4 separate regions of the Homo sapiens genome follow, and all the other regions are linked to region 1. The links come from fine-mapping of genetic effects on gene expression. A gene starts in region 1. Each other region holds a variant in brackets. All regions are shown on one strand. Distances are between the middles of the regions. Region 1 holds the start of HIP1 (huntingtin interacting protein 1). Region 2 overlaps HIP1 (huntingtin interacting protein 1). Region 3 overlaps HIP1 (huntingtin interacting protein 1). Region 4 overlaps RHBDD2 (rhomboid domain containing 2).

Region 1 (2,703 bases):
TAAGAAGAGGGGATGAAGTCCTCTGGGGGTGAAAAGCTTTATTCTTTTTTATTATTATTATTTTGAGACGGAGTTTCGCTCTTGTTGCCCAGGCTGGAGTGCAGTGGCGCCATCTCGGCTCACTGCAACCTTCACCTCCCAGATTCAAGCAATTCTGCTGGCCTCAGCCTCCCAAGTAGCTGGGATTACAAGCGTCTGCAACCACGCCCAGCTAATTTTTTGTATTTTTAGTAGAGACAGGGTTTCACCATGTTGGCCAGGCTGGTCTCAAACTCCTGACGTCAGGTGATCCACCCGCCTCGGCCTCCCAAAGTGCTGGGATTACAGGTGTGAGGTACCGCGCCCGGCCAAAAGCTCTATTCTTTGAAAGATTCCATATACAGAACCTTCAGTCAGATTCTCACTGTCTTTTCTAACTAAAATCCCAAAGCCCTTTCCCTCCAACTGTGTTTGGGGGAAGTATTCCTCGCATAACACATCAGGGGACCAGCCTCTGGAGAGGGGGACCCAAATGGATCTTCAAAGGTTCCACTCTGAGCACAAGAGTGTAGAAGAAATCTGCCCCTCCAGCATTGGCACTGGGATTAAAAGAAGCGTTGTACTCTTTGAAATGGATTTTACATACAAATGAATTGATGAACACCATCAACATGTCAGCTTAATTCAGCCCAATCAATACACCAGGCATTAAAAACTCGGAGAAAAAAATGGATTGTGGCTTTTTGTTGATGACACTGAGGAATTTTGGCCCCAAGCCCTGGCCAGGCAGGACAAATAGGGCAGTCTGCCTATTAGCTGTCAGGCACATCTTGGGGGATAAAACCAAGACCCCAAGTCAGGGCTCAGGGGCACCATGGTCTCCACTTTAGCCCCCAAAGTAATTTTCCCACAAAGTGGCCACACTTTGCATTTCCTACATTCCTTTTCCCTGCTCCGACCCCTTCCGCCCGGCCTCAGAGCTGACAGCTGGGGCTGGCCAGAGCCAAGCAAGAGGCATCGAGAAAGGGGGATGCTAAGGGGTGGGGGGTGGGAAGGGATGTCAATGCAACCAAGAAGTGATCGGAGGGGAAGAGAGGTCCCCTCACCCTTCACATTCCCAGCCCGGCGCCCCCACTCTCCGCCCCCACACTTGAGCCTCCAAGTGGCTCCCGTGCGCTTCCCTTGTTTAGGGGCAACCCTTCCATTCCGCCCCTTTTCAGTTCCTTCCCCTCTCACCTCATCTTGGGACTCCTGCCCGGTACCCAGCCGATCAGGCTCCTCTTGGCCACGCATCCTGCCATCTCCTCCGAGCCCGCCTCTGCCCTTCTCCCCAGGCCAGCTGGGGTACCCTGGGGTCCCCGACCTTCCTGGGATCGCCCAGATCTGCACGTCAATGCCCCCGCTCACTACACCCTCGCCCCGTCTTCAACTGGGGCCTGCAAGACTCCTACTCCCTTCAAAGCCCCTCCCGGACACCGCGTCCCTCAGGGTGCCCCAGGGATGCCCCGGGGTCCCCCGTCCTCACCTGAGTCCGCTCGAAGCTCTCGCGCTCCGCCGCCTCCAGCCCAGCGCCGACCCCGCGCCGGCTCAGCACCTTGGGCAGTGGGTTGGGCACCTGCTTCATGGAGCTGGCCATCCGATCCATGTCGCCGCGAGGAGCCGAGTCAGGGGCCCTCGGCTGCCCCGGGATCCCCACGGCGCCGCCCGCCCCGCCCTACCCGCGGGGATCCGGCGCTAACGGGACGGCTCCCGCCTGCCATTGGCTGTGAGTTCTGCCAGTCTTCCAGAGACCCCGCCCCTCGCCGAACGGCTTCCCCGCCCGCCCCCGCCCCTTCAGGAGCCCCTCCGCTGGCTCGGCCCCGACTAGCCTCTCGGGGCCTCGAGGCGCGTGGTGACTGGTCTGGAGTCCTGTCAGTCACCGTGGTCCCGCCGTTCTAGGCAGGGCCGGGGCGGGGTGCGGACGGGGCGAGGCCTGGATGGGGCGTGGCCTGGGCGGGCTGCCCTGATATGCCCTCGCTCGCCCCGCCCCCGCCCGCGCACCGCCCTCTCCTCCCCTCGGCCGCAGTCCCCGCGCGCCCCGAGCGTGCTGCCCTCCGCCAAGCGCCGCCCACTACCCTGCCCGCTCCTGCAGGGGGCTATCCCGCGACGGCCCGTGGAGATGGGCGGGGATGACGCGGGCCGGGCAGTGGGGCCTCCCCCGGGGGAATCCCAGCCCGCCTGCGAATAGCCCGTTAGCTCCTTCCGGGCCTGGGACCCGGGAGCGCCGGACTGACCAGCCCTGCGGCCGCAGCCCGGGAAAGCGCAGCCCCGCGGGCGGGGCGCAGCGTGGGCGCCTGGCCGGATCCGGCTCAATGGGTGGCCGCCCCCACCCAGCTCCCAGGCTTCCCCGTCCTGCACTTCTCCATTCTGCCCCTGCCCATGCCCTCTGCAAGGATCGCAGAGCCCAGGTCCCGGAGTTCGGGGCTGAGTCCGCGGGCACCTCCCGGGACCTGCCTCCCAAACCTCATCAAAGGAACCCGTCAGAGCTTATTTGTTGGTAGAAAGCCCTGTAGACACTTTCGGTTTATCTTAGGCTCTGAGCCGCGCGTCCCATCCTGCTCAGACGTCAGCCAGGGTACCAGCAAGCAGAGAGAAGTGTGATGCTTAGCAGGAGTGCTGGAGAAAGTTAAAAGTTTTCCGTTAAACTCCAATTTAGGTGTGTTTTTGTTTTTGTTTTTGTTTGTT
Region 2 (2,630 bases), 130 kb before region 1:
ACCACAGGCACATACCACTATGCCTGGCTAGTTGGTTTTTTTAAATAGAGACGGGGTCTCATTATGTTGCCCAGGCTGGTCTTGAACTCCTGGCCTCAAGCAATCCTATTGCTTCAACCTCCTAAAGTGCTGGGCTTATAGGTGTGAGACACCATGCCCAGCCAGAAGCTATTTAATAGCATAAAAGTACAGGAAAAATGGAATCAAAATGAAAGATGTGAGAATGGAAATGACCCAATATAATGTGAGCTGTAAAACGAGCTTCAGTAGGACTGGCAGATAGGAGCTCCGGGTTACAGGGAGACAGCAGAAGGATGCATCCATGGTGCCTCCAAGATGATGCAGAGACTTTAGGAGGCCGAGGGGGGCAGATCACCTGAGACCAGGAGTTCAAGACCAGCCTAGCCAACATGGTGAAACCCCATCTCTACTAAAATACAAAAATTAGCTGAGTGTGGTGGCTCATGCCTATAATCCCAGCTACTTGGGAGGCTGAGGCAGAATTGCTTGAACACGGGAGGTGCAGGTTGCAGTGAGCCGAGATCCCGCCATTGTACTCCTGCCTGGGCGACAGAGTGAGACTCCGTCTCAAAAAAAAAAAAGATGATGCAGAGGCTCTGGACCTAGATGAGGGGAGGATAGCAGCAAGGGCCACAAGCTGGGGAGACACTGTAAGAAAAGGACCCGAAGGAACAATGAACAATGAGGCCAGGCGGCTCTTGGGTAAGAAATAGCCATTTTTAAAAGAATGAGGAAGTGAACTAGCGGTAACGGTGGTGATAATTATCAAGCTGATGGCACTAATGAGTGCTTAGACCAGGCCCCTTTGTATGAATTATCTTATATAAAGTCTTACAACTCTACAACCTACCAGTAGACACTTAATAGTATTAATCAGCTCCATTCTGCAGATGAAGAAACCAAGGTACCTGAGATCTCTTAGGCTTAGAAAGGCTAAGTAAACCTGGGTGGGGTGGCTCATGTCTGTAATCCCAGCACTTTGGGAGGTTGAGGCTGGAGGATTGCTTGAGAACAGGAGTTTGAGACCAGCCTGGGCAATAGAGCGAGACCCCATCTCTAAAAAAAAATTTTTTTTTAAATAGCCAGGTGTGGTGGTGCACACCTGTAATCCCAGTACTTTGGGAGGCTTAGGTGGGAGGATTACTTGAGGCCAGGAGTTT[C/G]AGAACAGCCTGAGCAACACAGTAAGGCACCATCTCTACAAAAAAAAAAGAGTTGTTTTTTGTTTTGTTTTTTTTTTTTTTGAGACAGAGTCTTGCTCTGTTGCCCAGGCTGGAGTGCAGTGGTGTGATCTCAGCTCACTGCAACCTCTGCCTTCTGGGTTCAAGCGATTCTCCTGTCTCAGCTTCCCAGTAGCTGGGATTGCAGGTGCACACCACCAAGCCCGGCTAATTTTTGTATTTTTAGTAGAGATGGGATTTCACCATGTTGGTCAGGCTGGTCTTGAATTCCTGACCTCAGGTGATCCGCCCATCTTGGCCTCTCAAAGTGCTGGGATTACAGACATGAGCCACCATGCCCAGCCTAAAAAAAAAAAAAAAAAAAAAAATTTGTCAAGTGCGGTGGCCGTGCCTGTAGTCCCAGGTACTTGGGAGGCTGAGATAGGAGGATCACAGGAGGATCACTTGAGCCCAGGAGTTTGAAGCTGCTGTGAGCCATGATCACGCCACTGCACTCCAGCCTGGGGACCAGAGTGACACCCTATCTCTAAAATAAATAAATAAAAATAAAAAAAGAACTGCTAAGTAAACTGCCCAGGCCCGTAACATCAGCAAGTGTAGGGCGGGGATTCAGTCTTTGCAGTGTGACCAAGCTCAGGCTCAGGATCACAACCTCGGCACTAGACAAGGCCCTCTACACCACAGAGACACGATCAGAATCCACAGACTGGAAAAATGCATTAAAATTCACAAGATGAAATCCAGTAGGTACAAAGGAAATTTTCTATACTTAGGCCTAAACTCACTGGCACAAGGGAGCCGTGACTCAAAGCAGCACTTGTGAAAAGAATGAAGGTGTTTTGGCTGGGCACATGGCTCACGCCTGTAATCCTAGCACTTTGGGAGGCTGAGGTAGGTGGATCACGAGGTCAGGAGTTCAAGTTCGGCCTGGCCAAGATGGTGAAACCTCGTCTCTACTAAAAACACACAAAAAATTAGCCGGGCGTGGTGGTGGGCACCTGTAATCCCAGCTGCTCGGAAGGCTGAGGCAGAAAATTGCTTAAACCCGGGAGGCGGAGAACGCTGTGAGCCGAGATCACGCCACTGCACTCCAGCCTGGGTGACAGAGAGAAACTCCGTCTCAAAAGAAAACAAAAAAAAGAATTAAGGTGTTTTATTTGGCTGCTAACTTAATAATAGCAAGATTTTGATACGGTTGATGAACATGCAAGTCTGATCTCTCTGGATGCATTAAAAGGAGGGAACGTATGGTTCCAGTTCTCTACACAGATAAGGCCATGCGTGAAACACTATTCAGTTTCAGGCTTTATACATTATGAAGGAAACTAACAAGCTGGACCATTTCCAAAAAAGAGTGACCTGGATTGAAATGGACTTAAGATCTGAAGAAAATTTAGAGAAATATCAGTATTCTGAAGCGTGACCATCTGG
Region 3 (2,703 bases), 110 kb before region 1:
GCCACCACGGCCAGCTAATTTTTGTATTTTTACAATTAGTAGAGATGGGGTTTCATTATGTTGGCCAGGCTGGTCTCGAACTCCTGACCTCAGGTGATCCACCCACCTTGGCCTCCCAAAGTGCTGGGATTATAAATATAAGCCACCATTGTTTAAGTTTTTATAGAGATGGGGTCTCACTCTGTTGCTCAGGCTGGTCTCAAACTCCTGGGTAGGTGTATTGAGCACCCGGTCAAGTGTTGCATTAAGTCAACTCACAGATCACTAAGACTTAGTCCTGGTTTCAGAGTGAGGTCTAGATGGGGAGAAAGTGATGGCATTGTGTCCACCTTGTGAGAGGAGAGAGATTGGTGGGTATGGACTGTATGGAGGCCTGGGGTGTGGGCATCTATCTGAGGCTTAAGGATTGGTGATGGCTGCCTGAAGGAAGAACCAACCTAACCAGCTGAGAAGCTGGTGTGGAAAGGGGGCCTGCCAGGGCATTCAGGTAGAGATGACAGCATGACTGAGCCACAGAAGTGAGCAAGGCCCAGAGTTGGGGACTGGTGAACAGTCACTGTTTCTAGTGAGTAGAAAAGCAGAGATGGGGCGCTATAGTTTAAATATGTGTGTCCCCTCCAAAATTCATGTTGAAACTTAATCTCCATTGTGATGGTATGAAGAGGTAGGGACTTTTCGGAAATGATTAAGTCTTTTATAAGGACAAATGCCCTTATAAAAGAGGCTTTGGAGGCCGGGCGTGGTGGCTTATGCCTGTAATCCCAGCACTTTGAGAGGCTGAGGCAGGTGGATCGTTTGAGCCCAGGAGTTTGAGGCCAGCCTGGGTAACATGGTGAATCCCTGTCTCTTAAAAAAAAGAGGCTTTGGAGAGCTGCTTGCCCTTTCTACCTCTTCTGCATGCGAAGGCACACCAGTCATCTCTTCTACCTTTTTTTTTGCCATGTGAGGATGCGGCGAGAAAATGCCATCTATGGAACAGGTTCTTGCCAGTCACTGAATCTGGTGGCGCTGTGATGTTGGACTTCCCAGCCCCCAGAACTGTGAGAAATAAGCTTCTATTGTTTATAGACCCAGTCTATGGTATTTTGTTATAGCAGCAAGAATGGACTAAGACC[A/G]GGGCCATGACCTGGAAGCCTAATTTATAGAGCCATAGGGCAGCCGCCCAAGGAAACTTCCCCTGTACTTACTACCCAGCTTGAAACACATTAGCAAAAAGAATTCTTGAAAGCTAAAACCTCAAAGCCTAAGTCCTTAAAGAGTAAGTAAGCCAATGGATACATATACTTAGGTGAATGCACAAGGATTTCACCCCAATAGTGGAAAATGTTATTAATAGAGGACAGATCACAATGAAATGATACATCGCCCCCTGGTCATCTGGAATTATAGTGATACTAACATTGACTGAATGATACATGTCAAGGCATTGGTCTAAACACTTTATATGTGGTAATTCATCTGCCCTCACCACAACCCGGTATGGAAGGTAATATGCCTATCCCCACTGTACAAGAGGGAAAGCCTGGCAAAGGGAGACCTCAGTAGCCCACCCAGGTAAGCACACAGTGGAAACTGGTTTTGAACCCATGAACCCAGAACCCATGGATGGCCTGGACCACTGTGATATATTATTTCTAGATCTCCAGCATGGTGAAAACAAAAATTAAAGTCTACAAAACCGTATTATGGTATGGCCCCATTTTGTTTAAATATGTGTGTATTTGTCTGTGTGTACATGCTTGTGTTTGATTGAATCAAATGAAAATTTGGCTGTTTTTGACTTATATAAAAGGCAATTTCATAAGGTTCAACCTAGTGCATGCACACAAACACACACACACACACACACACACACAGAAAAGTCTGTAAGAACCTACACTAAATTGTTAACAGTAGTTTTAGATGGTGGAAAAATATTTGATCTTTATTTTCTTTATACCTTTTCATATTTTCTGAAAAGTGGCAGAAGTTTAACATTTCTGTGGATTACCTGTTTCCTTACTGCTGGTGCTGATGACCTCAGCTATGTGGTATTAAAATGTACTCAGTGTGCAGGAGCCCCAGCCCGGCAAACTACAGCATCAGGGTCCAGTGCACTCAAGGCTATCTCTCCTCGGGGACAGAGAAGCCAAAGTGTGTACTTCAATGAAGCAAGTGCTTAGAACAGCACATGGCATATCAAGGGCACTCTATAAACCTTTTCCAAATAAATGAATGAATGGTCACTTTCTCCACCCCACTTCCTACACCACTTGGCAGAATCAATCATTCCTACTTAGTTTCTATAGGAGTTTCCTTAAATCTCTATAGAATAAAGAACCCAGTAACCTGCCCAGGTAAGTGGTAGAGACAGATTTTGAACCCCAGGACCCAAGGCCTTGACCACTCTGAAATACTGTTCCTAGATCAAAGTGAGGGGCCCTTTGAGATTTGACTTCTCTGAGCCTCAGTTTCTCCAGCTTGAACATGAAAATAGGAATCACACTTTTCTGAGAATTGCATGAGACACGGTGCTCTGTCACCTCCAGCCTTGTTCCAGTTGATGTTACTTGGGTAGGGCTGAGAGGGCCTTGTTTATTGTGGGTAGCATCAAGTCCACACCCAGGGCCATGGCCAGAGAACTGCCCATTTGACCTTGCCTCCCTTACTGGAGATTTGTTGGATATAAGAGGCAGCATCTTCCCTCCAACTACTAGAAAATCT
Region 4 (2,703 bases), 140 kb after region 1:
TCCCCCTCCCATTTCACATACACACCTACGTCTGCTTTAGGCCTAAGCCCCACTGAAAAACGTTTTTCTCTCACCTACATCACGACAATTGGACTTTATCCACAAACCCCTATAAGCCCTATAAACGTCCTGCCCTCTTGAGATTTGGAATTTCTTCTGCTTTTTCATCTGTATCTTAATCTTGACTGCCATTCCCAGCTCATGGGGGTACCAGGGTGTCTTCTGCCTTTGGAGAGAAGTGTTTGTTTTTCTCTAGGGGAGAGAAATTTTGCAGACCAATTAAGTATAAACATCCATTCCTGAAAGACATTCCTAGTCTCCGTGTCTTCCTCATTTTCTCGAGAGGAACACAGGAAATTTGCATATCTCCTGCTGTTTTGCAAAGCACACACACTGATATGTATTAATTTCGTTTAACCCTCACAAGGATCCCATGACGTAGGACCTGTTATTGGCCCGTTATCTAGATAAGATTGAGGTTTCATGCAGAGAATCGCAGAGCTGTTGCGTCATGCAATTGAGATAGGAATCTATATTTTTTTTTTTATTCTGTGATGTTTTGGAACTAGAGCCTTCGGGTAGATAATCTCCAAATCATGTACAGTTGCTTCTAGAATCTTTTCATGTTTATACTTGGAATTTCAGTTTTGGAAATACTCAACAAATAATGAAGTACTCTTCAGATAATGAAGCCTCTGGTGATGGCCAGACTGAGGTATATGGTTCCATAGCCTGCTTCCCCACTCCAATCTAAAACTGTTCCCCCCACCCTAGGTATACATAGCACCACCTCACAGACAGAAGCAAAATGCCAACCTAACCTTAACCTCCCACTTTCTGGGGTTCACTGCTTCCCTGGGTGTGGGTTTCGTGGATATGTGAGCGTTAGAGACGTAAGGGACCTTTGAAGTCCTCAATCTAACTCTTGTTACTTTACAGTGAGGAAACTGACGCCTAGAGGACCTGTGACATGATTAAACTCAGCCAGCCTGGATGTAATAGAGCCAAGATTCCACTCCAAGTCTTTAGACTCCCAAGTCCAATATTACCATCAGTTCTTTGGTCTCTCTCCTTGAGTTTAGTCGTATTTGGGCATGCAGGGACATAAAAATACTTAAGAGATAACCACTTCTAAAATTTTTTTAGAGATAGGGTCTTCGTCTTACCCAGGCTGGAGTGCAGAGATGCAATCATAGCTCACTGCAGCGTTCAACTCCTGGAATCAAGCGAGCCTCCTGCCTCAGCCTCCCAAGTAGCTGGGACTACAAGTACACATCATCACACCTGACTAATTTTTAAATTTTTTTTAAAGACGGGGGTCTCACTATGTTACCTAGGCTGGTCTTGAACTCCTGGGCTCAAGTGATCCTTCCACCTAAGCCTCCCAAAATGCTGGGATTACAGGTGTGAGCCACCATGCCTGGC[G/A]ATAACTGCTTTTAGAAAAATAAAAGGCCAGGAATGATGGTTCGTATGTGTAGTTTCAGCACTTTGGGAATTCAAGGCAGGAGGATCACTGGAGGCCAGGAGTTCAAGGCTAGCCTGGGCAACGTAGCAAGACTTTGTCTCTACAAATAAAAATTTAAAAAAAGGAAAAGGAGGATTCTTTGATGTCTTATTACATATAAAGCATCAGTTTACCTGTGAGATCGGATAAGCACTTTCTGAGGAGACTTATAATTTCTATAATCTTTATTGTTAATGATAGTGTTATAATTCTTACAGCTGCAAAATAATTCATGGTCCCTTTTTTCTTCCTCTGAACAGCCACTATGGAAGGAGGGGTCAGGATTACAGCAGAGGAGACTGGCACACAGAGTGTTAAGTGACACCCACTCAATCCACCCCGAAGCTGTTACACTTAATTAACCCTCAAACTGCCCAGTGAGGTAGGTCAGTATGAAAACCTGAAAAAGGATTATAAAGCACTTTACAAATTCAGAGACTGCCCTCTACCGAAAAGTATTATTTTTTTCCCTCTGGAAGTCAGTTACCGCTAAGAGTTGCACCAGGCCTGGGGAAGTGTAGGGATTAGATATTCATGCCTCTCCTTTGAGGCTCTGGGTCCTTCATTGTTGAACGCACTGCTTGTATTGCCTCCTGCTGCGACTCACTGGCTCTCACTTCTCTGTCACGGAGGGGGGCTCTCTGCCTTTCCTAGGCGGCTTATAACCTGGCTTCCCTCCTGGGAGCAACCCGCCGCCAGGCCTCTAACCCGACTCCCTCTGCAGTTTACAGGCTGGTAACCTACATCTTTGTCTACGAGAATCCCATCTCCCTGCTCTGCGGCGCTATCATCATCTGGCGCTTTGCTGGCAATTTCGAGAGAACCGTGGGCACCGTCCGCCACTGCTTCTTCACCGTGATCTTCGCCATCTTCTCCGCTATCATCTTCCTGTCATTCGAGGCTGTGTCATCACTGTCAAAGCTGGGGGAAGTGGAGGATGCCAGAGGTTTCACCCCAGTGGCCTTTGCCATGCTGGGAGTCACCACCGTCCGTTCTCGGATGAGGCGGGCCCTGGTGTTTGGCATGGTTGTGCCCTCAGTCCTGGTTCCGTGGCTCCTGCTGGGTGCCTCGTGGCTCATTCCCCAGACCTCTTTCCTCAGTAATGTCTGCGGGCTGTCCATCGGGCTGGCCTGTATCCTTCCTAGCAGAGAGCTATAGAACAACGCATGTCAAAGGGTGAACCAGGCTGGAGGGTCTGG

Evidence for each region.
Region 2: its variant is fine-mapped to the expression of HIP1 in tibial nerve (GTEx, PIP above 0.99).
Region 3: its variant is fine-mapped to the expression of HIP1 in monocytes after Pam3CSK4 (Quach 2016, PIP 0.95).
Region 4: its variant is fine-mapped to the expression of HIP1 in whole blood (INTERVAL, PIP 0.95).

What each region holds. Positions count from the first base shown.
Region 1 is chr7:75,737,297-75,739,999 of GRCh38, forward strand. HIP1 (huntingtin interacting protein 1) reads right to left here and starts at 1,645. Exons shown (of 31, transcript NM_005338.7): 1 at 1,505-1,645. The coding sequence starts at 1,624. RefSeq lists a silencer at 1,433-2,422.
Region 2 is chr7:75,605,986-75,608,615 of GRCh38, forward strand. The region is part of intron 1 of HIP1 (huntingtin interacting protein 1); the gene reads right to left. Among named protein-coding and RNA genes, the nearest start is that of SPDYE5, 110 kb to the left of the region's middle. RefSeq lists a silencer at 2,373-2,573. The variant C/G (reference allele first, on the strand shown) is at 1,182.
Region 3 is chr7:75,625,058-75,627,760 of GRCh38, forward strand. The region is part of intron 1 of HIP1 (huntingtin interacting protein 1); the gene reads right to left. Among named protein-coding and RNA genes, the nearest start is that of HIP1, 110 kb to the right of the region's middle. RefSeq lists an enhancer at 1-37. The variant A/G (reference allele first, on the strand shown) is at 1,116.
Region 4 is chr7:75,879,601-75,882,303 of GRCh38, forward strand. It overlaps RHBDD2 (rhomboid domain containing 2), which reads left to right. Exons shown (of 4, transcript NM_001040456.3): 2 at 2,229-2,636. Among named protein-coding and RNA genes, the nearest start is that of RHBDD2, 1.9 kb to the left of the region's middle. The variant G/A (reference allele first, on the strand shown) is at 1,426.